3 separate regions of the Homo sapiens genome follow, and all the other regions are linked to region 2. The links come from fine-mapping of genetic effects on gene expression. A gene starts in region 2. Each other region holds a variant in brackets. All regions are shown on one strand. Distances are from middle to middle. Region 1 overlaps SF3B1 (splicing factor 3b subunit 1). Region 2 holds the start of SF3B1 (splicing factor 3b subunit 1). Region 3 has its middle 37 kb from the start of ANKRD44-DT.

What was found. PIP is the estimated chance that this variant, and not a neighbour inherited with it, causes the effect.
Region 1: its variant is fine-mapped to the expression of SF3B1 in whole blood (TOPMed, PIP above 0.99).
Region 3: its variant is fine-mapped to the expression of SF3B1 in whole blood (INTERVAL, PIP 0.92).

Annotation. Positions count from the first base shown.
Region 1 is chr2:197,395,745-197,403,911 of GRCh38, forward strand. SF3B1 (splicing factor 3b subunit 1) reads right to left here. Exons shown (of 25, transcript NM_012433.4): 12 at 7,841-8,020; 13 at 7,205-7,291; 14 at 6,812-7,082; 15 at 6,241-6,386; 16 at 5,998-6,144; 17 at 5,656-5,781; 18 at 4,971-5,192; 19 at 4,508-4,690; 20 at 4,311-4,422; 21 at 2,717-2,837; 22 at 2,241-2,372; 23 at 312-584. Among named protein-coding and RNA genes, the nearest start is that of SF3B1, 35 kb to the right of the region's middle. The variant T/C (reference allele first, on the strand shown) is at 4,882.
Region 2 is chr2:197,430,406-197,438,588 of GRCh38, forward strand. It overlaps SF3B1 (splicing factor 3b subunit 1), which reads right to left and starts at 4,623. Exons shown (of 25, transcript NM_012433.4): 1 at 4,567-4,623. The coding sequence starts at 4,594. RefSeq lists enhancers at 3,960-4,506, 4,251-5,450, 4,692-5,001, 5,022-5,071.
Region 3 is chr2:197,343,621-197,351,803 of GRCh38, forward strand. No RefSeq gene overlaps it. Among named protein-coding and RNA genes, the nearest start is that of ANKRD44-DT, 37 kb to the left of the region's middle. The variant G/A (reference allele first, on the strand shown) is at 3,235.

The DNA.
Region 1 (8,167 bases), 35 kb before region 2:
CTCTAACTATATTTGACCAATTTTGAAAACAAAAGATTATCAATCAACCCTTTTCAAAATTTATTTAATTCAATAGATAAGAAAAGAGATTTAAAGGGGATGGGAGAACTTGAAAGAAAGTCTGGGGAATCACTACAGCGTGCACATTATTTTAAAATAATAAGTCATATTTACAATGTCCTAAGACTCCAGGCTAGCAATTTTTTCTTTAACTATGTTACAGTAAAAAGTCATCTAATAACTATTTCACGATGTTCTAAAATGAAGGAAGAGTTATAATTATTTTCTTGTATTTAGTTCAAGTCACTTACCTATCCATTAAAGCATCTTCAAGTAACGGTGTTACGGCATAAATGTAGTCTTTTCCCATTTCACCAATATATTCAAACAAGAAGGAAAGCGATTTTAACACTCCATTTTGAACATTCAGTTCAGGAACTCTGTATTCATTCATTAAGGCAGGGAGTACTGTAAAGGGTGAACATGTTTCTGCAACAATAGCTATTGCTACAGTGGTACAAACTCTGTTCTGCCTTTCTTGAACTTTGAGGTTGTTCAGAAGTGTAGCCAATACATCATGAGGGCTGAAAAAAACAAATGGGTCAACAAGCTGTTACATTATAAGTCAAAAATTTATGGAAGAAAAAAATGCATAAAGATGAAAACTTTTAAGTATTAATAATTACAGGGAACTCAGTAATTTTATAAAATGCAATACTTTCAAGTCACTGGCATTGTTGTTTCTATATAAAAATTTCATATAAATTAAAAGGTCAGTTTAAAAAAGTTGACTCTGAGAAGATCAGAGGTCATAGCTGTACAAATTCTAAACATTTTAAGTTAACTCAATTTTCAAATGTAATTTTCAGTTCTTAAACTTTCTGAAATATAAAGAAATTTAACTAAATGTTTAAAGTGAGTAATTCTCTGAGTTGTCAAAATGGGCACTAGAACTAGGTAGGAGTGGTGAGGGGAATATCCGAATTGTAGTCTCCCATTATAAACCATATAAAATCTCTTTTCCTTTTATCTTTCCTCCACACAATTTGCTGCATCTATTTGCCTCTTCTTTGACATAAACTTAGAGGGACATTGGGGCTAAAAGCTTGCACAAAAGCTATTCTTGCAAATGTCTTGACTCCATCACCACTGAAATAAATATTATGCTACCAAAATAGGAGAGGAATGAGTATGTGTTAGGGGAGGGGGTGTTGTCTGGTATAATTCTACCTAATTAATCAGACATTCACATGTCATATTCCTTGAAAACATTTTCTTAAGCCACATGGACATGTGGTGTCTCGTTTTCTACAATGACTGTTTTTTCCTATTTTAGTTGTGATGGAGTGGAAGCAAACCACCACAGATTATCTCACAAAGCAGCTATAATTCAGTTAAATCCGTGGAGTAATGTTAGAATAGCATTTTTGTTGTTTTTTTTAGAGACAGGGTCTCGCCCTGTCGCCCAGGTGCCCAGATGCCCAGGTTGGAGTGCAGTGGCACAATCACAGCTCACTGTAACCTTGAACTCCTGGGCTCAAACAATCCATAATAAGATTTTTAAAACATATAAAGCATTAATATGAGACTTAAATGATGTTGTGAGACTAAAAACTTGCCTTAATAGTTTAAGCAATATCCTAGAAGACCAGCACACATTTTAAATTTTTCTGAAAATGGTACTGTTTCCCTCCCTGAAAACACCTAAAGTGTAATTAAAGTAAGTCTTAAACCCTTCCATCTATTTTAATTAAGAATTTAAGACTACAGGCTGTGCGCAGTGGCTCACGCCTGTAATCTCAGCACTTTTGGAGGCCAAGATAGGTGGCTCACTTGAGGCCAGGAGTTCGAGAACAGCCTGGCCCACATGGTGAAACCTCATCTCTACTAAAAAATACAAAAATTACCTAGGCGTGATGGTGCATGCCTGTAGTCCCAGCTACTGGGGAGGCTGAGGCAGGAGAATCGCCTGCACCTGGGAGGCGGTGGTTGCAGTGAGCCGAGATTGAATCACTGCATTCCAGCCAGGGTGACAGAGCGAGACTCCGTCTCAAAAAAAAAAAAAAAGAATTTAACAATACATTCCAATAATCAGAAGGTCAGTGGTTAAATGAAGAGCTTTCTCAACTGCATTATTCAGACCATGCCTCAAAAGAGATTTCTACATGGAAGTATTTTCCAATACCACAATGCATTTATTATAAAGTAATTTTTTTTTAATGGAAGTAAATAACACTCACCCAATGGCCTTTGCAATATAACCAAATGTGTTGACTGTGGCTCTACGAATAGCCTTTTTGTGGGCTTTTAAGAGCTCTAAAAGCTCAAAGCAAATCCTCATCCACTCTCTTGCAGATACATATTCAGCTCCCCTAATTTAAAAAATACACATATTAATTATTGTGACATTAAGAAAAGTTTTAAGGATAAATTTGCAAATTCAGTTCTAAAAACATGATTAACTCATTTTAAGCATTAAATAAAACTTACTACTCTTCAGAAAGGCTGAAGAGTTAGTCTTACAGGTTTAGTCCTAAAATTACATTGCCACCCCCATTACCATCCAAATTGAAATTTGACTGAAAATATTAATACTGGATAGCCTAATCTTTTACACTTATATTAGTGACATTAAGGAAATTTTGCTAATTGAATACAAAGTGGCCAAATTTGAAAATTGATACTGCTTATAAAAATGTGTGGGTAATCTGCTTACCTGTCAGCAATACGACCAACAAGATCAATACAATTCTCTTGTACTTTTTCATGTCTGTTCTTTAAGATGGGGGTGAGTCTAGGCAGCAGATCTTTAATTGGTGGAGTCATCTTATGCATACCTATTTAATAGAAGTCAATAAACTATCAACATTTGAATTGCAACTTTTGTTCACTTTCCTTTTACTTAGCAATGTCATATATGACTATGTATAAATATAAACTTACAGCTGCCTAGGGAAAGAGAAAGCCCCAGATTCTGACCAGACTCAGAATCGTTTTTAACTTTTATTAACAATTTTTGATTATGTATAGAAATGAAAGAAATCAGTGAAGTGATTTAAAGGATGATGGATACTCAATAACAAAAAAGTTTTGTTTGATTCTGAAATATATTTGTGCACTGACATTTAAATATGGGGACAGCTTATGTTCCGGCCATACACAACAATATAAGCCAGAGGTAAACATGTAAATAAAGCAAAAATTTCCAGAAAGGGCCCCCTTACCCTTTAACTGCAAAACAAACAGATCTCCAGTCTCCCTGCAATGCAGGGCATACTTGGATGGTATTTACACCTACGAAGAGAGAAAAAAGGAGGCAGCTGGCAGGGGCTCTTGCTCTAACTAGAATCACTTGCTCTGATTCTCTCTCCATTGCTCTTCCCATGCCTCTCTGACAAACAATATGGTTTAAAACTCCCTGCAAACCAGAGCCCTACAAGTGGCCATGTAAATGATTTCTGGCAAGTAGCTATCTTCAAGTATAGAGGATAGGGTTGCATTGGAGATTATATGCAAATACAATAGTTTAAACATGTGTATCGCATAAATACCTCTTACAAAATGAGGAAAAACAAACAGTGGCTCTCTCACAGTCAGCTATTTTGACTTCTGCTAGGTTATCAGAGCCTCTAAACTCTGCAGGAGTTACATTTGGCAACAGTTATAATCAATTTAAAAAAAAGATTAAATATAAGAAACCATTTGTTTTCTTCATACTGCCCTAATGGAATAAAAACTTTGCTCTCCATATCCAAGACCATTTGTAATATAGCTGTATTACGGGTTAGAAAACTGAATGGACAGTATTTAAAACTTGGGTATGTAAATAAAGACAATAATTTGATCAGTTCACTTTTCTCTGATTATATTCCTTGAAACTGATCACAAGCAAAAAACCTGTCATAATCGCTAATTCAAGGTTTAAATATATATATATTGTTCTAAAACTAAATTAAAACTTTAGGATTGCCTTTTCACCCCGCAGCAGAACATGGCAGAATATATTTCACCTGACACACTATTTCTACTAGGGTCCTGTATTCCATGACTTCAAAGCTTTTTGAGCTGTGACTACTCCCACCTCTCATGTAGGTCCTAAACTTACCCTTTTTTTCTCTTTAAAGTAAAATATAAATGGGTTTTGGGAAACAAGACTTTTGTGACATCCCCCGACTTAACTACAATCTTGAAGTGCTTTTAAAAAGCTAACAAAAACCTCCCAACTCCTAAATAAGATTTTACTTACGAAAAAAAAAAGAAAAAGAAAGTTAAAACAAGAAAAAGTCTTATGTAACCAGCAAATTCCATACCTATGACATTTACAATGGCCTTCAGTGCTCCAAGAATGCTGCCCAATACTTCAGGGTACTCTTCACCCAAATACTCATACAATACAACACCCAAGTGTCCCATCAATTTTTCCTATAATAAAACAAATAATGTTAAAATGTTACTATTTACATTAAACTATTTGGGGAAGAAGTAAGAATTTGATGCAAAAGTTTACCTCTTGACAAGTCTTCATGACAACAGCAGTTCGAGAAATCAAGTCAGCTGCCTGTTGCCTAACTTTAGCAGATTTGTTATTTAAACGCCACAAAACTGTACCACAGATCTGAGGCAAGTATGGTTTGACTCGTTTGCCAAGAGCATTAACCACTGTGCCAAAGCCGTTCAACATTACTGAGTCCTAAAAAATAAATTTAAAAAAAAGACATATTCATTTGGTTTATGACTGCACAGTTGAAATACACTAAGAGTCAACCTTTTCTAACCACCCAAACATCTGTTGCTGTTTTTTTACATCAAATCTTAAAACTTGAGGTAGAATAATATCGTTTGGTAACCCCCTGAGCATTTTAAAAATTACTTCAAATTCAA[T/C]TGCATTCTAGAAAAATTTGCTTGACAACTAATATGCTTTTCTACAAATATTAAAGTTAGTAGCAATGTGCCATAATAGTTTTCATTACCTCTGTAGTCTGTTCTTGGAAAGCATAAAGAATACCATCAATCAGTTGTTCTTCAAGTTTATGATCAATATCTGCTGCTCCCAAATTACCCATAATTTTCTCAATTGTCTCCATCACCATTTTTCTGTACTGTTCGGCTTCATCTTTCAGATCATCCACAATCCTGGATATAATTTCTGCTGCACCTACTTTGTTTGCCAACTCCACAGTAGTATCAACTAACTAAAAAGAACAGAAAAACAAAAAACCTTTTAGACTGCTTTTCCAAGGAAATAAAGCAACATCATGAAAACCAAATACTCTAAATATACTACTTATTTAGCTAATAAACATGGTAAGAATGATTCATTGCTACTTATTAAAGTTGAAGAGAAAAGTGACCAAACATCGAAAAATGAGTATAAGTTAACATGATTCAAGGTAAAACTGTGTCCATGTTTCATCTAGCCAGATAAAGCACTGAATGTACCAGACAAAAACATCAATTCACAGTTAAGTATTAATCCTCGAATCCAAAATCAAAATGGAAGTTAACTGGCTGACTAAAATCCATCTCCTTTCATAATCAAGCACATATAAACTGTGAGATAATCAAGGCAAAAAATAATATACAACATGCATTCAAGTTGACTAAAGAATGAGTTGAAAGGACTTTTGAGAATATTCTTTTACAATAAAAGCTTACCTGTCGGTAATTTCTTCTATCCAAAGCCATCCTGTGCTGCCAGAAGTGTTTAAAAAAGGGAGGAAGAATCTCTGTTTTAATGTAGTTTGCTTCTACACCATCTGTCCCACAACACTGTTTTACCACCTAAAAGGTTAAGAAATAGTAATAATAAATCAACTGACCTGAAATGAAGAGAATACTCATTGCTGATTACGTGATTTTAAAAAATAAAATTTAAAAACAAATCAAACAGTATTCGTGTAACATACAGTTTTTTTTGTTGATTTTTAAAAACACTTTAAAATTCTGTTAGAACCATGAAACATATCCAGTTTACATTAACAAATCTGGAATAATTACCTTCAGCACAATTTTTTTCATTTCCTCATCAGGAGACTGGAATTCTCGAATAAGGATTAACATCACTTCTCTAGTATAGTAGTTGGCATATTCTGCATCCATAAGAGGAATAAGATACCCAATAGCCTTCAAGAAAGCAGCCAAACCCTATTTTTAAATAAAAAATATATGTACTTTAGTAATTTAGATTTATGTCGCCTTAACTTTAATGAAGATAAATCAAAAGGTAATTGGTGGATTTACCTTTCCTCTGTGTTGGCGGATACCCTTCCATAAAGGCTTTAACACAGAATCAAAAGATTCGATACCATAAGGAGTTGCTGCTTCAGCCAAGGCAGCAATGGCCAAAGCACTGATGGTCCGAACTTTCTGCTGCTCATCCACAAGACCTACAAAACCAAACACAGGTTTTAACTATGCCCCAACATTACCTAAGTTACACAATATCATCCAGATTCTCTCAATATATCAACTATTCAGCCAAACTGCAGAATATGTTCACATTAAACAAAATTAGGTAAAAGCAAAACATGAACCATAGCCTGTCAGCAGATAATATAACAAACCCATCATAAAATCTATAGTTTGTAGAGCTATGCCTTTCCATTTATCTCCCCAAATCAGTAGCCCAAATTTTAGGACAGCTGTCCTATTAAACATGGACAGGCTGTGTGTGTACCTCTAGTCCCAACTACTAAGGAGGCTGAGCAGGAGGATCACTTGAGCCCAAAGGTTTGAGTCCAGTCTGGGCAACATAGTAAGACCCTGTCTCCTAAAGAAAAAAAAAAAAAGACAAAGTTACATTACAACTTACCATGTTCAATGATTTCAACTAAACTTCTAAGATGTGGCAAGATGGCACAGCCCATAAGAATAGCTATCTGTTGTACAATCTTAATACCAGTGTGTCTCGCTTGCCAGGACTTCTTGCTTTTGCACACAGCTTTTAAGAAGGGCAATAAAGAAGGAATGCCCAGGGCAGAGGCTACAACAGCAAAAGCTCTAGCTGTTGTGTTACGGACATACTCATCCATGTTATCTATATCAGGTCTCATGGTAGAGATCATAGTAGCCAGACCAGCAGCCTAAAATGTAAACAAAGAAAGGACAGTCATGAGTTGGTAATATTAATCTTCAACCATTTCTTTCCATAATCAATTCCATAAACAGATATAAATTTTCTTCTCTAGAAATTAAATGTAAATACCTTTGCCAAATTAGAAATGATCTCTCGGCCTTCCACTCTAGCATAGTAATCTTCATCAATCAATAGCGGTTCAATGACCACGAGGATCTGAAAAAGAGAAAAGAGAAGAAGCTACACTTTCACATCAATTACTGATGAAATGCTCATGTACAGAATTAAACATACATAAGAAATTTAGAATTATCAGGACTTTTGTTAATCAAGGGACGAACTGTTTAAGAATTTTAATTATACAAGTTCAAACTCCAGACAGAGATGAAAATTTAAGAGAGCTATTAGTGACACACTAATATTCAATATTTTTTAAAGAAATAACTTATACACCCTATGAACATACTGCACCATAATTACCATCGGTGAAAAAACTGGTTCTTAATACTAACTGGCGTTAGTTCTCATATGTTCTCATCCTAATCTAATTTTAATAAAAGCAAATGAAAAAATTAAATAATATGAACCTCTTACGGCAAAGATGACAAAAACTAACATCTGTACATCTGTATAAAACTGTATTTGTACATGTATGGTGTGTACTTGTGCAAAGGAAAAGGTCTAGGAGAATATGTAAATTTAACATTGATTAACTGAAAAAGTTAAAACTTTAAACTATCAGAAACACTATTAAGGAGAACAAACCTTATGCACATATGGACGAACTAAGTCATCAAGTTTGTACAGTATCCTATCAATAACTTTCACAAGTAAATGACGCTCTTGATCCTCAAGTGTAGGAGACATCAGCAGAGGAAGAATCTGATTAAACAAAGGACCAGCTCCAAATTCACGAGCTTTATCAGTAATCTGACGCAATGCAGCCTGGGAAAAAGAGCAGAGTAATAGGTGTGGTTTCTTTATAATCAAACATTTTGAATGAGCAAATTACTCAAAGAAGATTTTCCATACTTTAATATTTTAGTGTTTACTTTTACACACATTTTACATAGACAGCATGAGTTCATTTCC
Region 2 (8,183 bases):
GCTAGGTGATGAGTATATGAGGGGTTCATTTTACTACTCACGGTAGTTTTTTTTGTTATTTTGTTTTGAGACAAAGTCTCACTCTGTTGCCCAAACTGAAGTGCAGTGGCACGATCTCGGCTCACTGCAACCTCCACCTCCTGGTTCAAGAGATTCTCCTGCCTGAGGCTCCCAAGCAGGTGGGATTACAGGCACGCACCACCAAACCCAGCTAATTTTTTTATTTTTAGTAGAGATAGGGTTTCACCATGTTGATCAAGCTGGTCTCAAACTCCTGACCTCTGGTGATCCATCCACATCAGCCTCCCAAAGTGCTGGGATTACAGGCGTAAGCCACCGTGCCCAGCCTACCCTAGTGTTATTAAAACCTGTCTTCACACACTGTGCCCGGCCTGTTGTTTTGTTTTTCTGAGACAGAGTCCTGCTCTGTTGCCCAGGCTGGAGTATAGCGCCAGCCGCTCTCTACTTTTCTGTATGTTTGCAGTCTCAAGCAATCCTCCTGTCTTGACTTCCCAAAATGCTGGGATTACATGCGTGAGCAACCCCTGGCCTCCTGTATTTTAAAACTCAGACCTACATATCAAGCTCTTGAGAAAAACAATTCATATCACTGATAGCAGAAGGTCACATCTGATAAAACTATTTAACTGCTCCCCACCAATTCTGTCCCTCTGATTTCCCCTCCTGTGCCTTTTCTTCTTTTTTTTTTTTTTTTTTTTTTTTTTGAGACAGAGTTTCACTCAGTCGCCCAGGCTGGAGTGCAGTGGCGTGGCGTGATCTCAGCTCACTGCAACCTTCGCCTCCTGGGTTCAAGCGATTCTCCTGCAACAGCCTCCCGAGGAGCTGGGATCACAGGCTCACGCCACCATGCCCGGTTAATTTTTTTGTACTTTTAGTAGAGAGGGGGTTTCACCACGTTGGCCAGGCTGGTCTGGAACTCCTAACCTTGGGTGATCTGCCCACCTCAGCCTCCCAAAGTGCTGGGATTATAGGTGTGAGACACCATGCCCAGCCCTTTTCTTCTTTCTAAGCCTTAGATCCTGCTAAACCCAACTTGTAGCACTTCTTCCTCCTTGATTTTTATTTTTCATTTTTCGTCTGAATTATTTTCAGTGTTCTAATCACTGCTCATTACATGTTACACAGATACTGCCCTCAGATGTTAATGTCTCACCTACACCTTTCAGTCTGGTCCCTAAGTGATATCTACTCTCCTTCAGCCAGATATAACCGGTGAACAACTATTTCCAAAATACAAGGCTTCTAAAAGACATCACAGAAAAACAGGAAGTATATTCTGAATCCCAACCCTCAGCTTTTTCATTAAACAAAACTCCAATAGGACAACTAACTATAATATAAATCATTTTACTGAACACTACAAACAATACTGATAAATTGATTCCTAAATGATTAATTCTATTAAAAAAAATTTCAAGGCCAGGCATCGTGGCTCACACCTGTAATCCTAGCACGGTGGGAGGCCAAGGCAGGACTGCTTGAGCCCAGGAGTTCGAGATCAGCCTGGGTAACATAGCGAGACCCCATCTCTAAAAAAAAATTGTAAAAATTAGCCAGGCATGGTAGCACACGCCTGTAGTTGTAGCTACTCAGGAGGCTGAAATGGGAGGATCACTTGAGCCCAGCAGTTGTAGGTTAAGTGAGCTATGATCACGCCACTGCACTCCAACCTGGGCAACAGGGCAAGACCCGGTCTCAAAAATAAACACAGGAAAAAATATATAGATCAGCAAGATACACAATAACAAAACTATAACTATTCCAGCCATTTATCAAGCAAAGAATTAGGGAAAAAACTTTTTCAGCTTTGTGATGTCCCAAAAAATCTAATTCAAAGGATTAGTGGCAAAACAAGCTGATATGTAGGATTTTTGGTTAAACCATTTTCCCCTTACAAAACAGAGAATAATGTGTGTTCCCTGTTTGTATGCCAAAGTCAGCAGTATCTGAAGAACTGCTGGATGGCAAGATTATGCATATTCATAACCATACACCTGACATAATACGTGGAAAGATCTAAAAGATTTTATCTGATTTGAGTAATTCCAGTTCTTTTTATATTTCAATCCTGGAAAGCATAAGCCACATTGGCCAGGGTAAAATATAATCAGATTGGTTAAAGAGGATGTGAGGCCTGATCCTAATAGAAATGTTTGAAAGGGTTCAGGCATGGTGGCTCATGCCAGTAATCCCAGCACTTTGGGAGGCCAAGGTGGGAGGATCACTTGTGGTCAGGAGTTTGAGACCAGCCTGGCCAACATGGCGAAACCCTGTCTCTAAAAATACAAAAATTAGTCGGGTGTGGTGGCACATGCCTGCGATACTAGTACTCAGGAGGCTGAAGCAGGACAATCGCTTGAACCTAAAAGGCGGAGGTTGCTGTGAGCCGAGATTGCACCACTGCACTTCTGCCTGGGCAACAGAAAAAGACCCTATCTCAAAAAAAAATAAAAAATAAAAAAAGAAATGTTTGAAAGGAATATGACAGCAAAATAAATAAATAGTTATCAGTTTATCTCAATCTTGGAGCTAAGGAGAAGAGAAAATCTTAACACAACAGACTATTCTAAGCAATATAACATTTATACTGAGTACTATAGCAGCACTGCCCCAAAAAGCATTAATTCTGCTTCAGTTTATCAAAAATGGCTTAACAAGAGAAAACAGTGATGGACCATGAAGAACTAGAGTTCCATTAGGAAGGAAGCAACAAGCTATGTCAGTATTATGTGTATTTCTACTAAACATTTATCATCCCCTGACATATCCCATAGGGATGGGCACAGACAGTGCTCAAGTATTGAATGTTCTGCTATTTTCTTATGGTATCACTTAATTCACATTGATAGAATAATCTCAAAAATAACAAGTTTGGCCAATGAATAGCAATAGACCAAAGTTTTTAGCTGGGTTTCTAAAAAATTCAGGAAAACTGATCAGAATTCTGATTTTCCTGTCTGAGGGCATCTTATACTGAAGTTACCAATAAATAAGTATCAAAGCTATACTATCAATATCCCCAAATGAATAACATCCTGAATGAACAAAAACAGCACAACTTTATATTTTCTACTTACTTTGCAAAAGGTTATATTTGAGATAGTCTAAAGACAAAATAATAAAGCCTAGGAATACTAAGAGAGCATTTAAATCCTAAATACCTAAAATGGTATACTAATATTAAAGTCATTGACAATTCATTAGCATGTTTGATAAATAGCAGAAAGCTGGACTTCAGGTCCTCTGGGTGACCCAACTATTCAAAGCCATTCACATTCTGGTCCTAATCCAACCTTTCCAGATTCATTTATTTCTTCTCTACTTGCACCCTCTGTTCCTGCTACAGTGGACTACTACTCAAACACACCTTTCACGATTCAATACCTTGTTACAAGATGTTCTCAGGCTCAGATGTCCTTCCCGATTTAAAACTGACTGATCCTTTTAAAACACGGTCATGTAACCTCCTCAGTGAAACAACCCTAAACATAATCATTCCGTTACCCAGGTTCCCAGAACATGCTGCTTTTTCTTCTACTTAAGCATGCATCTGGCCTCATGAGAGAATGAGAACATACACATCTGTTTCTCCTATCAGACTGTAAAATTTTGGATGGCCTCAGTCTCTTACCTCTCACAGACTAATACCGAGCCAAATACCCAGAAAGAACATATGAAACAAAAGTGACTTAGAAGTCTCGTTCTCAGTGAAAATCTCGGATTCCAAGTCAGAAATCAAAGAATGCAGTTCCAACTTCTCATGCCTCGTCTTTTCTGAAAAGTGATCCCATTTTCTGTCATCTCTGGATACTTCCTAATGAACTCCAGTCTATTCCCAACGTTTTCCTAATTTGCACACTCTGTATTCCATAAAACGATCAACTAGCTTGAAAGCTTCGGCCATTAATGAAAGTAATTTATGTTTTCCTCTTCCATCTGCTCCTCCAATAACCAGTCTCCAAAGAAAAAGATCAATATTATACTAAAAGTGACTAAGGGAGGGAAAACAACTACCAGATTTTATCCCCAAATCGTTTCGTGCAAGAAAAATAAACAAGTAACTGACGCTTGAAGACACACAAGGGTAGGAGTAACGGAATCTCGGTTTAACCAAATTCGATTCAGTCTGCCGGAAAAGCGGCTGCCGTATTTCAGTGCTTTTCTGACCCTCTTCTGCACAAACTATGGGGACGACAGTGTCGAGAGGCGAGTGAGACCTTCTCCCCACGCCCGCTTCCCCGATCCCTTGCCCACGAATCCTACTGAGGAAGCCGCTTAAACGAGGCCCTCTGGTCAGAGAAGAGAAGCTACTCTGAAGTAGCAGGTCCCAAACACTGAACAAAGCGCCTGTCGGGGGTGTAAGAGGAGGACGCCATTACGCGGGGCAGTGGCCTGCGCCGCTGGCGCGGAGGAGACGACCCTTGGCCCCGAAACGCGGGCTCAGCTCCTACGAAAGAAACCATAGAAAAAGGCAGAATCCTAGGAAAAAAGGCTTTTATTAGGCTAGCAACGAAGAAAACACGTAAGCAGGGAAAGACCGCTTACCTTCGTGAGTCTTGGCGATCTTCGCCATTTTGTCCACTCGAACACACAGACGGAACTGGCGCTCCCAAGAACTTCCGCTCGTCGCCGCCGCCACGGAGAAAAATAGCTGGGGGCTGCACTCTGCGCGTGCGCCAAACGGGAGCGCGCTCCGTCGGGTGACACGTGACAGAACTGCCACCTAGAGGGAACCGCGAGGTGCATTGTGGGTGGGGGAGGAGACACGGTTGGGCCCTGAAGTCGCCTGCGTGGTGACCCAGGAAATCCCCGAGCCGAGCCGTAAGGTCCTTAAGTGAGTAACTTTGCCCTGGAGGAAAGTGGATTCTACGAAGGGAGTTAAGAACAGACACTGAGTCCCAGCAACTCTGGAGGCTGAGGCGGGAGCATCGCTTGAGCCCAGGAGTTCGAGGCAGCCGTGAGCCGTAATCGTGTCGCGCCACTGTACTCAAGCCTCCAGACCGGGCGACAGAGCAAGACCCCGAGACCCCTCCCATTAAAAAAAAATGAACACTGTACGAAACGCTGCGGTTTCAGAGCTGGAAGAGACCTCAGACATTCAATCCCTTTTCCCAAAATTCACTGGAAGAGCTCGAGGAAAACTTTCCCTTGCAGCTGTCTCAGTCTTTACAGTGCTTAGTTACGAAGACAGTCTTAACAGTCCCATCTTTCGCCCTGTAATTCAAGGTCATTTTTCATTCTTTCTGTTTAATAATTGCAAATAATTTGGGTAGGAATTTCGTTGAGCCTCACAAATCGTTGCTGAGTTGCACAGTGACAATCTTGCCACCCTTTTAAAGCCTTTTACTTTATGGGTTCCTAGAAAACCACTCATCGTCATTATTAACATTCATTAGATGTTTCTCTTAAATCCTAGACGGTATTCCTAAATCAGGAATTTTAATAGATCAGAATACGGCAGTCTGTTTTCCTGGGCATCAATTATAATATAACCTTGTACTGTCACACTGGTCTTTGACTTCGACGATGAAAAAGAAAGAAAGGCTCAGAAAGATGGGTCCCGGAAGCAGCCGAGGAAAACAGGTAGTTATCAAGGTTAGAGCCATCACAAAGAGAGGAGTACCTCGCTATGTGATAAACCTGCAACCCAAATACTAACCATACCATGGGTCAGTATGGTCGTTTGAAGGGAGGGAAATGGTATGGGTGTATTCCTCTTGCAGGAAGACCCCATATCTACTTTGGGTAAAGTGAGGAGCCATTTTCCTGAGGCTAGCGGTAGGTGGGAGATATATGGACAATGGCACTGGACTGAGAGCTTAGATAACCTGTCCCTGGTGACTCCTGACCTGCAGCCTTGCTCCCTCTTTCCCTCTCACCAGACTCCCTCCCTTCTTCAGATCAGGTGACACAAACGATTTTTTTTCTGTTTTTTTGACACACAGTCTTGGTTTGTTGCCCAAGCTGGAGGGCAGTGGTGCGATCACAGCTGACCCTAACTTCGACCTTAAGGTTCAAGAGACTCTCCTGCCTCAGTCTCCAGAGTAGCTAGTACCACCAACATGGGCCACCATACCCAGCTAATTTTTATTTTTTGTAGAATGAGATCTTACTATATTCCCCAGGCTGGTCTCAAACTCTTGGCCTCAAGCAGTCCTCCTGCCTCAGACTCCTAAAGTGCTGGGATTATAGGCGTGAGCCACCACAGATTTTTATTAGCATCAGTAAAGGAATAAATTTGATAAATTAAAATTTTTGGCCAGGCGTGGTGGCTCATGCCTGTAATCCCAGCACTTTGGGAGGCTGAGGCAGGCGGATCACAAGGTCAGGAGTTCAAAACTAGCCTGACCAACACAGTGAAACCCCATCTCTACTAAAAATACAAAAATTAGCCGGGCATGGTGGCACCTGCCTATAATCCCAGCTACTCAGGAGGCTGAGGCAAGAGAATCGCTTGAACCCAGGAGGCGGAGTTTGCAGTGAGCGGAGATAGTGCCACTGCACTCCAGCCTGGGCAACAGAGCGAGACTCCGTCTCAAAAAAAAAAAAGAAAAAAAGATGTGATGGTTAATTTTAAGTGTCAACTTGACTGGATTAAGGAATACCTAGAAACCTGGTAAAGCTATTTTGTGGTGTGTCTGTATGGGTGTTTCCAGAGATTAGCGTGTGAGTACAAGTGGGCTAGGTGGGGAAGATCGGCCCTCCGTGTGGCCAGGTACCATCCAGTCTGCTGGGGACCCCAGGAAGAACAGAAGCAGAGAAAAGGTGAAAATGTCAATTTATGTGCGAAGGCTGGCTACATCCAATCTTCCTCTATTGTTGTTTTTGGACAACGACCCCAAGCTGCTCAGCCTTTGGAATCCTGGATTTACACCAGCAGCACCCTATCCCCACCCCTTCCTCCTGGTTCTCAGGCCTTTGTCCTTGGACTGAGTTACATCATTGTCTTCGCTGATTCTAAACCTTGGGACTTGGACTGAGCTACCAGCATCTCAGGGCCTCTAGTTTGCAGATGGCCTGTCAAGGGACTTAGTCTCCAAAATTGCAGGAGCCAGTTTCCCTAATAAATCCCAATGTGATAGTTCTTATCCCACAGGCCCACTTTAGTTCAGTTTAGTTTTGCTTTGTTTTTAGAAATGGGGTCTTGCTCTGTTGCCCCAGCTGTAGTGCAGTGGCTCACTCCAGCCTCAAACTCCTGGGCTCTGGCGATCCTCCCAACTCAGCCTCCTGAGTAGCTAGGATTACAGGTGCACACCACCATGCCCAGCTACTTTTTAATTTTTTTTTTTTGAGACAGAGTCTTACTCTTTCACCCAAGCTGGAGTGCAGTGGCGTAATCTCAGCTCACTGTAACCTCTGCCTCCCTAGTAGCTGGGACCACAGATGTGTGCCACTACACCCAGCTAATTTTTTATTTTCAGTAGAGACAGGGCTTTGCCATGTTGGCCAAGCTGGTCTTGAACTCCTGGCCTCAAGTGACCCACCCACATCGACCTCCCAAAGTGCTGGGATTACAGGCGTGAGCCATCTCACCTGCCTACTTTTTAAATTTTTTGTAGAGACAGGGTCTTGCTATATTGCCCAGGCTAATCTCGAACACCTAGCCTCAAGCGATCTTCCCATCTGGGCCTCTCAAAGTGCTGGGATTACAGGCAGGAGCCCCTTAACCAACTTCGAGAACTTGGGAAATAAGATGTGGTGGGTTCTTGCCACCGTGAGCCAAACCTGGGTCAGAACTTCATGTGTGATCTGGCCCCTACATACACCCACTCTGATAGGATATTATGACACTTTGGATAACAATGTCGATTTGGACCTTGTGTCCCACAGGTCTTAAAATATTTGGTTATTCCACTTTTCCCAGTGTATAGTTACCAGAGCAAATGATAGTTCCCTTTGGAGAAGTATTAAGGGATCATTAACAAATACTAACAAAAAAAAGGAAAACAAAACAAACACTGTGGTGTTACACAGTCCTTCCTGGGGACCTAGCTTCTGCTTCAATTAGATGACCTGAACTCATTTCTAGATCTGAAAACTACCTTAGGTCTGGAAACTAGCTGAAGATCACTTTTTTTTTTAAATTGGGACAAGTGCCTTCAGCCTCCTAATGATTCATGTTTTATTTCTCTTGGTTGCACAGATTGAGCAGTACCCTTGTA
Region 3 (8,183 bases), 87 kb before region 2:
CGTGAGCCACCACACCCAGTCAGGTTGTACTATTTTGTACACACACACACACACACACACAATTGTGAATTTTTTTAATAAGTAAATTTACAAAATTTTTAAGATGAAGATAAAGGTGTCGGAGGTTGGCTGAGGGTAGTTCCTGTGAAAAGTGAAGAGGAGAGAGAGCAGGATGAGGCAGGAAAAAGCCTTCAGATTGTAATATCTGTCTGACAACTGTGAAAGAAGAGTGGGAGGGAAGGAGGCTTGGGTAGGAAGAGTTCCAGACTGCAGTGCAGCTCTGAGGACATTTCACTTCATCAAACAGGGGCTCCACACACAGATTTCTCACAGAGGAGTCCTGTGTTAGGCAAAGATGGCCAGGACCTAGTACCCTTGCCACGCTCAGTTGTTGAGCAGGAGTTGCCTGGGAAGAGAGTGGTCTCCATTCCCATATGCCATGGCAGACCCTGAAGGTTTTGCATCTACAGGCAGTCAGTGCATTGCACTCCTCACAGCTGAAATGTGAGCTCCTTCTCAAAGTGAGATCTGAGCAGGGCCTGCATGTCTGCCACAGCAGCCACGTGAGATTTCCATTTTTAAAAGCCAGTTCCTGGCAGAGCACAGTGGCTCACGCCGGTAATCCTAGCACTTTGGGAGGCCAAGGTGGGTGGATCACTTGAGGTCAGGAGTTTGAGACCAGCCTGGCCAACATGGTAAAACCCCGTCTGTACTAAAAATACAAAAATTAGCTAGGTGTGATGCCACATGCCTGGCGTTCCAGTTACTCAGGAGGCTGAGGCAGGAGAATCACTTGAGCCCAGGAGGTGGAGGTTGCAGTGAGCCAAAAGCATACCACTGCACTCCAGCCTGGGTGAAGGGAGTGAAACCCTGCCTCAAAAAAAAAAAAAAGCCAGTTTCTTTAAAAAAATGTTGCTTGTAATCAACATATAGAGGCAAAAGAGTGGAAATTAGGTCTGTGTTATTTTCTGCTAAATTAAAGGCAAGCATCCACACTGAGGAAAACATTTGAAATAAACATGATAGGCAAATTAACAAGTTTTTAGCTAGGGAGGATTTTATATATATTGGTTTTGTTAAAAAAAAAATGGAAGGCCCAATATAGGTAAAAGATATTATTAGAAAATTCTCCAAAAAGAAAATACAAAACAAGTAGAATTGGAACAGCCTCAACCTCATCAGTAATTAAAAATAAGTAATGTTAAATAATTTTTTTCTGAAGAAATTAATAAAGGTTTAAAAAATGTTTGATACTTAGTACTTGTAAGGGTATGATGAAATAAGTTATTCTTATACATTTCTGGAGTTGGTGTAAATTGGCGATAATTTTGGACCTATTATTTTTCCGTAGAAGAATATATTCTAGGCACGGTGGCTCCAGTCTGTAAATCCCAGCACTTTGGGAGGCCAAAGGAGGGTCACTTGAGCCCAGGGGTTCCCGATCAGCTTGGGCAACATGGTGAGACTCCATCTCTACAAAAAATAAATTTAAAAAATTAGCCAGGCGCGGTGGTGCATACCTGTAGTCCCAACTACTCAGGAGGCTGAGGTCAGAGGATCGCTTGAGCCCAGGAGGTTGAGGCTTCAGCGAGCCATCATCACACCACTGTACTCCAGCCTGGGTAACAAAAAGTAGAAAAAAGCTTGGGACACAAAGATGTTATTTTAGTCAGGATTCTTGATTATGAGAAACCCAACTCAAGTGGCTTAAGCTAAAAAGGGTAAATTACATGTCACATAAGCAAACCATGGAAAGTCGGGTTTAGAACAGGCCTTGGGTTAGACTGGATGCAGAAACTCCACAGAATTAACTCATTTCCTCTCTCTCTCTCTCACACACACAAATGCACACACGCTCACACACACATTAATTTCCTCACTCTCTGAGGTGTATTGACCTTGTTCTCTCAGGACCAGAAGAAAACAAAAACAAAAGCAATGGCACCTTAACTATTAGGTACTGAAAGATTGTCATTCCAGACAATAATCCAAGTGTTTAAAAGGAGCTCATGGCCGGGCACAATGGCTCATGTCTGTAATCCCAGCACTTTGGGAGGCTGAGGTGGAAGGATCACTTGAGCTCAGGAGTTTGAGACCAGCCTGGGCAACATGGTGAAATCCCATCTCTACAAAAAATTCAAAAAATTAGCCAGGCATGGTGGTGCATGCCTGTAGTCCCAACTACTTGGGAGGCTGAGGTGGGAGGATCACCTGAGCCCAGGGGTTGAGGGTTCAGTGAGCCATCATCACACCACTGCACATCAGCCTGGGTGACAGAGTGAGATCCTGTCTCAAAAAAAAAAAAGAGCTTGCATATAGTCTCTCATATGGTGGAGAATAAGGCAAAGAAGGCAGCCATTAACTGTGAGGCCGTGCGCTTATAGCTTGTGATCCAAAGGGAATGAGACTGCTCTACTCAGCCTGAGTCACACGCACCTCACTGGCTTGTCATCATGGCCAGCTTTTCCTTGTTTGGTCTGGGTTAAATCTGTCCCCTCCTTTCAGTAACCGCTGCCTCCCAGTCTGATTTCAGATCCTCACACTGTGTACTCTCACCTGGACTGTCTATACTGGCTCCTAACAGGTCTCACAATTTCCAGAACAACCCCCACCCCCAGCCCCACATGCTATACATAGCCCCATTCATCCATCCTGCACACTGAGACCAGGGACATTCTTTTGCATCAAGTTTTTGCCGACTCCCCATTGCTTTCAGGATGAGGCCAGTATTCTTTGTCTCAGCCTACATAGCAGCACAGTCTCATTCAGATTCTCCTCCCACTATGCTCTCCTTCACATCTACAGTCCCAGCAGACACGCTGCCATCTCCCAAGCCGTCTGCGTTTTTGCACACATCATGTTTTACATGCCACTGCTGGGGCAGCCAGTTCTGGGCAGCCTGCAACCGGCTCTGAGCAAATACAACCCGAGGCCACCTTGTCCCTGTTCCACACCAGGGGCCTCCAGCCTCGTGCTCTGTGGCTTCTCTGACACCCAGAGGGTGGGATGTCCGTGAGAACCTGCTCCACTCTTAGGCAGGCACAAGTCAAAAGCCCAGGACTATTAAAGCCTACTAGACCACCCTTGACCGATAGAAGATTAGAGCTGATGGATAAATGCATTCCCCTTTTGTCCCCTGAGAGGATAGTTTTGAGACGTATTTCATAAAGCTCCTCAGAAGTCCCCCAGGACTGAACACCAGTCACCCATACCAGTGCTGGTCTCAGTGGCGAA[G/A]TCCATGTATTAGCAGCTTCTTTCCTTCTCTGCCTGACTTCCCCTGGGATTGCATTCCCAAATCATCTACCTGTTCTCAAATCTTTGCCTCAGGATCTGGTCTGGGGAGAACCCAGGCTAAGAAACTGAGATATATTCAAGCCAAAGGCTCCCCCAAAGGTCATAAACTAACCACATCGTTAAAGAAGATCCTAAGGCTGAAGAAAGAAGAAAGACCATTCAGTGAGGAAGCAACTGCCTTACTCCAATATTTATCTCTCGCTCAGATATAACTGGAGACCCAAGTAGCCAAATCTCAGAGCAGGTTTGCAGTCAAAGAAACAGGCCAGCAACCCAACTCAAACCTATTAAAATCATTGCTATCATCTTTCTTGAAAAGCATCAAGGCCAGGAAAGTGTATTTTTAACTCAAAACAAAACAATATTATAAAAATACCCTCTTTAACCTCCACCACTTCAAATATCCTCCATATGGAAAAGAACTTGCTCCCAAATCCACATTTTCTCTCCTTGACCTTCAGCTCTCAAATATAAAATTCTTTAGAAAGAAACAAACCCCTCATAGCTCTAGACTTTCCTCTCCTTTCATTTCCCCCTTTCTTCTCTCTTGTGAGTAAATCTTGGCCTTTTTTCATGAAAATACTCCAACTCATCTCTTCTTCTATGTTCTATCTATTGTCTACCATTGTTCCAAATCTGTATCAGGAAAGCCCAGAAAGCAACCTAGCAAAGGCAGAATCCACCTCAGCTCTTAGGAGAAAAGGAAAAGTGGGAGTTGCTAGACTCAGAATTCTCTTAGGGGCGGAGGGGAAGTGCAGTGGCTCACGCCTGTAATCCCAGCATTTTGGGAGGCTGAAACAGGAGGATCACTTGAGCCCAGGAGTTCGAGACTAGGCAACATAGTGAGACTCCCATCTCTATTTAAAAAAATTAAAAATTAACCAGGCATGGTGGCACACACCTGTGGTCCCAGCTACTCGGGAGGCTGAAGTGGAGGAGGACTGCCTGAGTCCAGTTGAGGCTGCAGTAAGCCATGATTGCACCACTGCACACTCCAGCCTAGGCGACAGAGCGAGACTCTGTCTCAAAAGAGAGAGAGAGAGAGAGAGAGAGAGAGAGAGAAAATTCTCTTTAGAGGGTAAAAGAGAGCTATGAACATTCAACTTTAATCCTTTTGTTCTCAGTCACCCAATACACTCAGTAGCACCCTAGGAAGCACTGGGTCAGTCAAGCACAGAGGCAAGTGTATCTAAGGTTTCCTCATTTCTCTACAAGGAAAAGGATAAAAGATGAGTGATGTGAACTGACTTTAAAGACTGAAGTTAACCCAGCAATTCCCATAGTCCATGTGCAATATAACTACCTATACTTTTGGAGTATGTGTTATACAATATTTTTTATATTTGTTAAATCTTTTAACATAACTTTGTGCCTGAAGAACTGACTGGTGGTTCAGATATTCCCAAGAATGCTGGGAGTGGCATTATGTTATGGAGCAATATTCCATGACACTAAATGGTGGGTGGGGGGAAATTATTAGAGGTTTACCTGGATCACAGTGCTGCCAGCACTGGAAATCAAATTATTATCACATGTGGCCGGGCACAATGGCTCATGCCTATAATCCCAACAGTTTGGGAGGTTGAGGTGGGCATATCACTTGAGGTCAGGAGTTCGAGACCAGCCTGCCCAACATAGTGAAACCCCGTCTCTACTAAAAATACAAAAATTAGCCGGGCATGGTGACACATACCTGTAGTCACAGCTACTCAGGAGGCTGAGGCAGGAGAATTGCTTGAACCTGGGAGGCAGAGGTTGCAGTGAGCCAAGATTGTGCAGTGGCCTAGATGACAGAGCGAGACACCATCTTTAAAAAAAAAATCATAATCACGTTATTTGGTGAGACTGAATTCAGGGCCACGGGAGCTGAAGGCATAATGGAGCTGTGACCACCTGACACTTCCAACTCCTCAGCAGGCTTCACCTGCCACTTGAGTTGGGTGGGGGTGTTGCCAGGCCAGGGTGCATGCTGTGCAGGAGAGAGCTTCCAGGGTCTGTTTCTCCTACGGTTTGAATGTGGTTTGTTGTCCTCACCAAAGCTGATGCTGAAATTGGACCCCTACTGTGGCAGTGTTGGCAGGCGAGGCCTGGTGGAAGTGTTTGGGTCATGGGGATGGATCCTTCATAGACAGCTTGGTGCTGTTCTCATGGTAGTAAGTTCTCACTCTCTGGAGAGTAGATTAGTTATTGCAGTAATGAATTAGTTCCCTTGAGAGCAAGGGTTACAATGCAAGTTTCCTCCTTCTGTTTGGCTCTCTGCACATGTCCACTTCCCCTTTGACCTTCTCTGCCACGTTGTGCAGCACAAAAGCCTTTGCCAGAAGCCAGGGCCATGCTCTTGAGCTTCCCAGCCTACCTAACTATGTGCTAAATAAAACTCTTAAAAAAAAAATTACCCAGTCTCAGGTATTCTTTTATGGCAACACAAAATGGACTAAGACAGTCTTTCTCTCCCTTTTCCAAGACTGAGCAAATCTCCTTCTACCTGGCTCTTTTTTTGGCTAGATTAATATCGTTGGTCAAGGTAGGCCCTATCATGGGATGGAAGTAGACAGTAGAGAAATGGCTTGGGCATCTGAAATGGACTGGGTGTTTGTGGTTCCCCAAAATTCACCTGTTGAAATCCTAACAACCAATTTGAGTGTATTAGGAGGTGTGGCCTCTGGTAGGAGAATAAGCCATGAGGATAGAGCCCTGGTGAATGAGATTAGTGCCCTTGTAAAAGATACCCTAGACAACTCTCTCACCCTCTTTCTACCAGGTGAGGAGACAACCAGAAGTCTGCAGTCTGCAACCCAGAAGAGAAGACCTTCATCCGAACCCAACCATACTGGCAATCTGATCTTAGACTTCCAGCATCCAAAACTGTGAGAAATAAATTTATATTGTTTATAGCCACCCAGTTTAGGGTACTTTGTTACCAAAGTCCAAACTGACTAAGACAACATCTCTTTCACAAAGGGCCTCTGTTATAGCAGGCTACCCAGAGAGCCAAGAGATACAATAATGCAATTGAAGAATGACATGCATCGTACACATTTATGCTTGAACTCCAATAACAGTCCACATTGCCTGGGTGCACTATGAAAGACTAATTTCACAAATCCCATAATTATCTTGTAACACAATTATATTGTAGTATGTGTTATATATTAGTGTTAATTACCTCAATGTAAACATTTAGAATAGCACAATTTTAAAAGTCTGTTTTGTGGGCCAGGCGCAGTGGCTCACGCCTGTAATCCCAGCACTTTGGAAGGCCGAGGTGGGCAGATCACAAGGTCAGGAGATCAAGACCATCCTGGTTAACACAGTGAAACCCCATCTGTACAAAAAACACAGAAAGTTATCTGGGCATGGTGGCGGGCACCTGTAGTCCCAGCTACTCGGGAGGCTGAGGGAGGAGAATGGCGTGAAACCGGGAGGCGGAGCTTGCAGTGAGCTGAGATTGTGCCACTGGGCGACAGAGTAAGATTCCATCTCAAAAAAAAAAAAAAAAAAAGTCTGTTTTGCATGTCTTCTTTTCCTTCAATAAGTAGGAATAACTGAGGCCTCTCAAATTCTGAGCAGTCCTGGATCAAGTAGCTCTTGTTTGAACATTATCTCTCTAAAAATGGGAATTTGCAGGTCTTTACCCTGTTCAGTTATGTGTTAGCTAATTAGCAAGTGAGAGAAAATTAAACAACTGTTAGCTGAGTGCCTACTCTTTGTAAGGCACTCGGCAAAGGTGAAAAAATAATGGACATAGTTCCTGCCCTCAACGAGTTTACATTCCAGAGTAGGAGATGGAAACTAATCATTGAATCACATAACTAATCTAAAATTACAATCATAGAGGTGCCAAGACAAAAAAATAAAATAAAACTACAATCATTATGAGTCATAATAGGGGAATTTGACCTTTCTTACTGGGAATCAGGAAGGGTATTCATGAAGTTAAACAGATATCTGAGAGGAAAACAAGTAGAATAGAAGGGAGTGGCAGAGGCCGGGAGCAGTGGCTCATGCCTGTAATCCCAGCACTTTGGGAGGCCAAGGCAGGTGGATCACTTGAGATCAGGAGGTCAAGACCAGCCAACATGGTGAAACCCCACCTCTACTAAAAAAATACAAAATTTAGCCGAGCATGTTGACTCATGCCTGTAATCCTAGCTACTTGAGAGTCTGAGGCAGGAGAATCACTTGAACCCTGGAGGCTGAGGTTGCAGTGAGCCGAGATTGTGCCACTGCACTGCAGCCTGGGCAAGAGAGTGAGACACCGAGACTCCATCTCAAGAAAAAAAAAAAGAAAGGAAAAGAAAGTGGCAGAGACACAAAGGGGGTCACAGGCAGAGGGAAGAGCATGTCCAAAATCCCTGTAGTGTGAGGGAGCTGCACAGATTTGAGACATTGAAAGATGTCTGAGCCTCTGGAGCACAGAAAGCCAGAGAGAACAGGATCGAGATGAGTCCAGTTGGGAAATATGACTTTGAGTCTCCAGGTTTTGAGTGCTGGTGGTTGAGGGAATGGGGAATCACCTTGCTGTTGCCCACACACACCACCTTCAAATCCTACCCAGAGTACCACTGCCCCCAATATCCACATCTGAAATCATCTTTCAGAGCCTAACTTGAGCCTGGGCTTGCCAGAAATAACTCTATTAATCACTTACTGCCCTTGATGCAGGACTTTGTGCTTCAGATTTTGAACAGCAATGAAACAGAGAGAGAACAAATCCAGAATGGGGTGAAGTGTTGCCTTAAGGAAGACAATTCAAGCAATAATATTAAATTACTTTAGAAAAGTGGATGGAAAATAAGGAAATACACCCACACAGCAAAACTTTTAAAGTTTTTCCAGATAGAGGGACTTTCATTCATTCACAGCAACAGCTTTGAGTTATTAGGAGA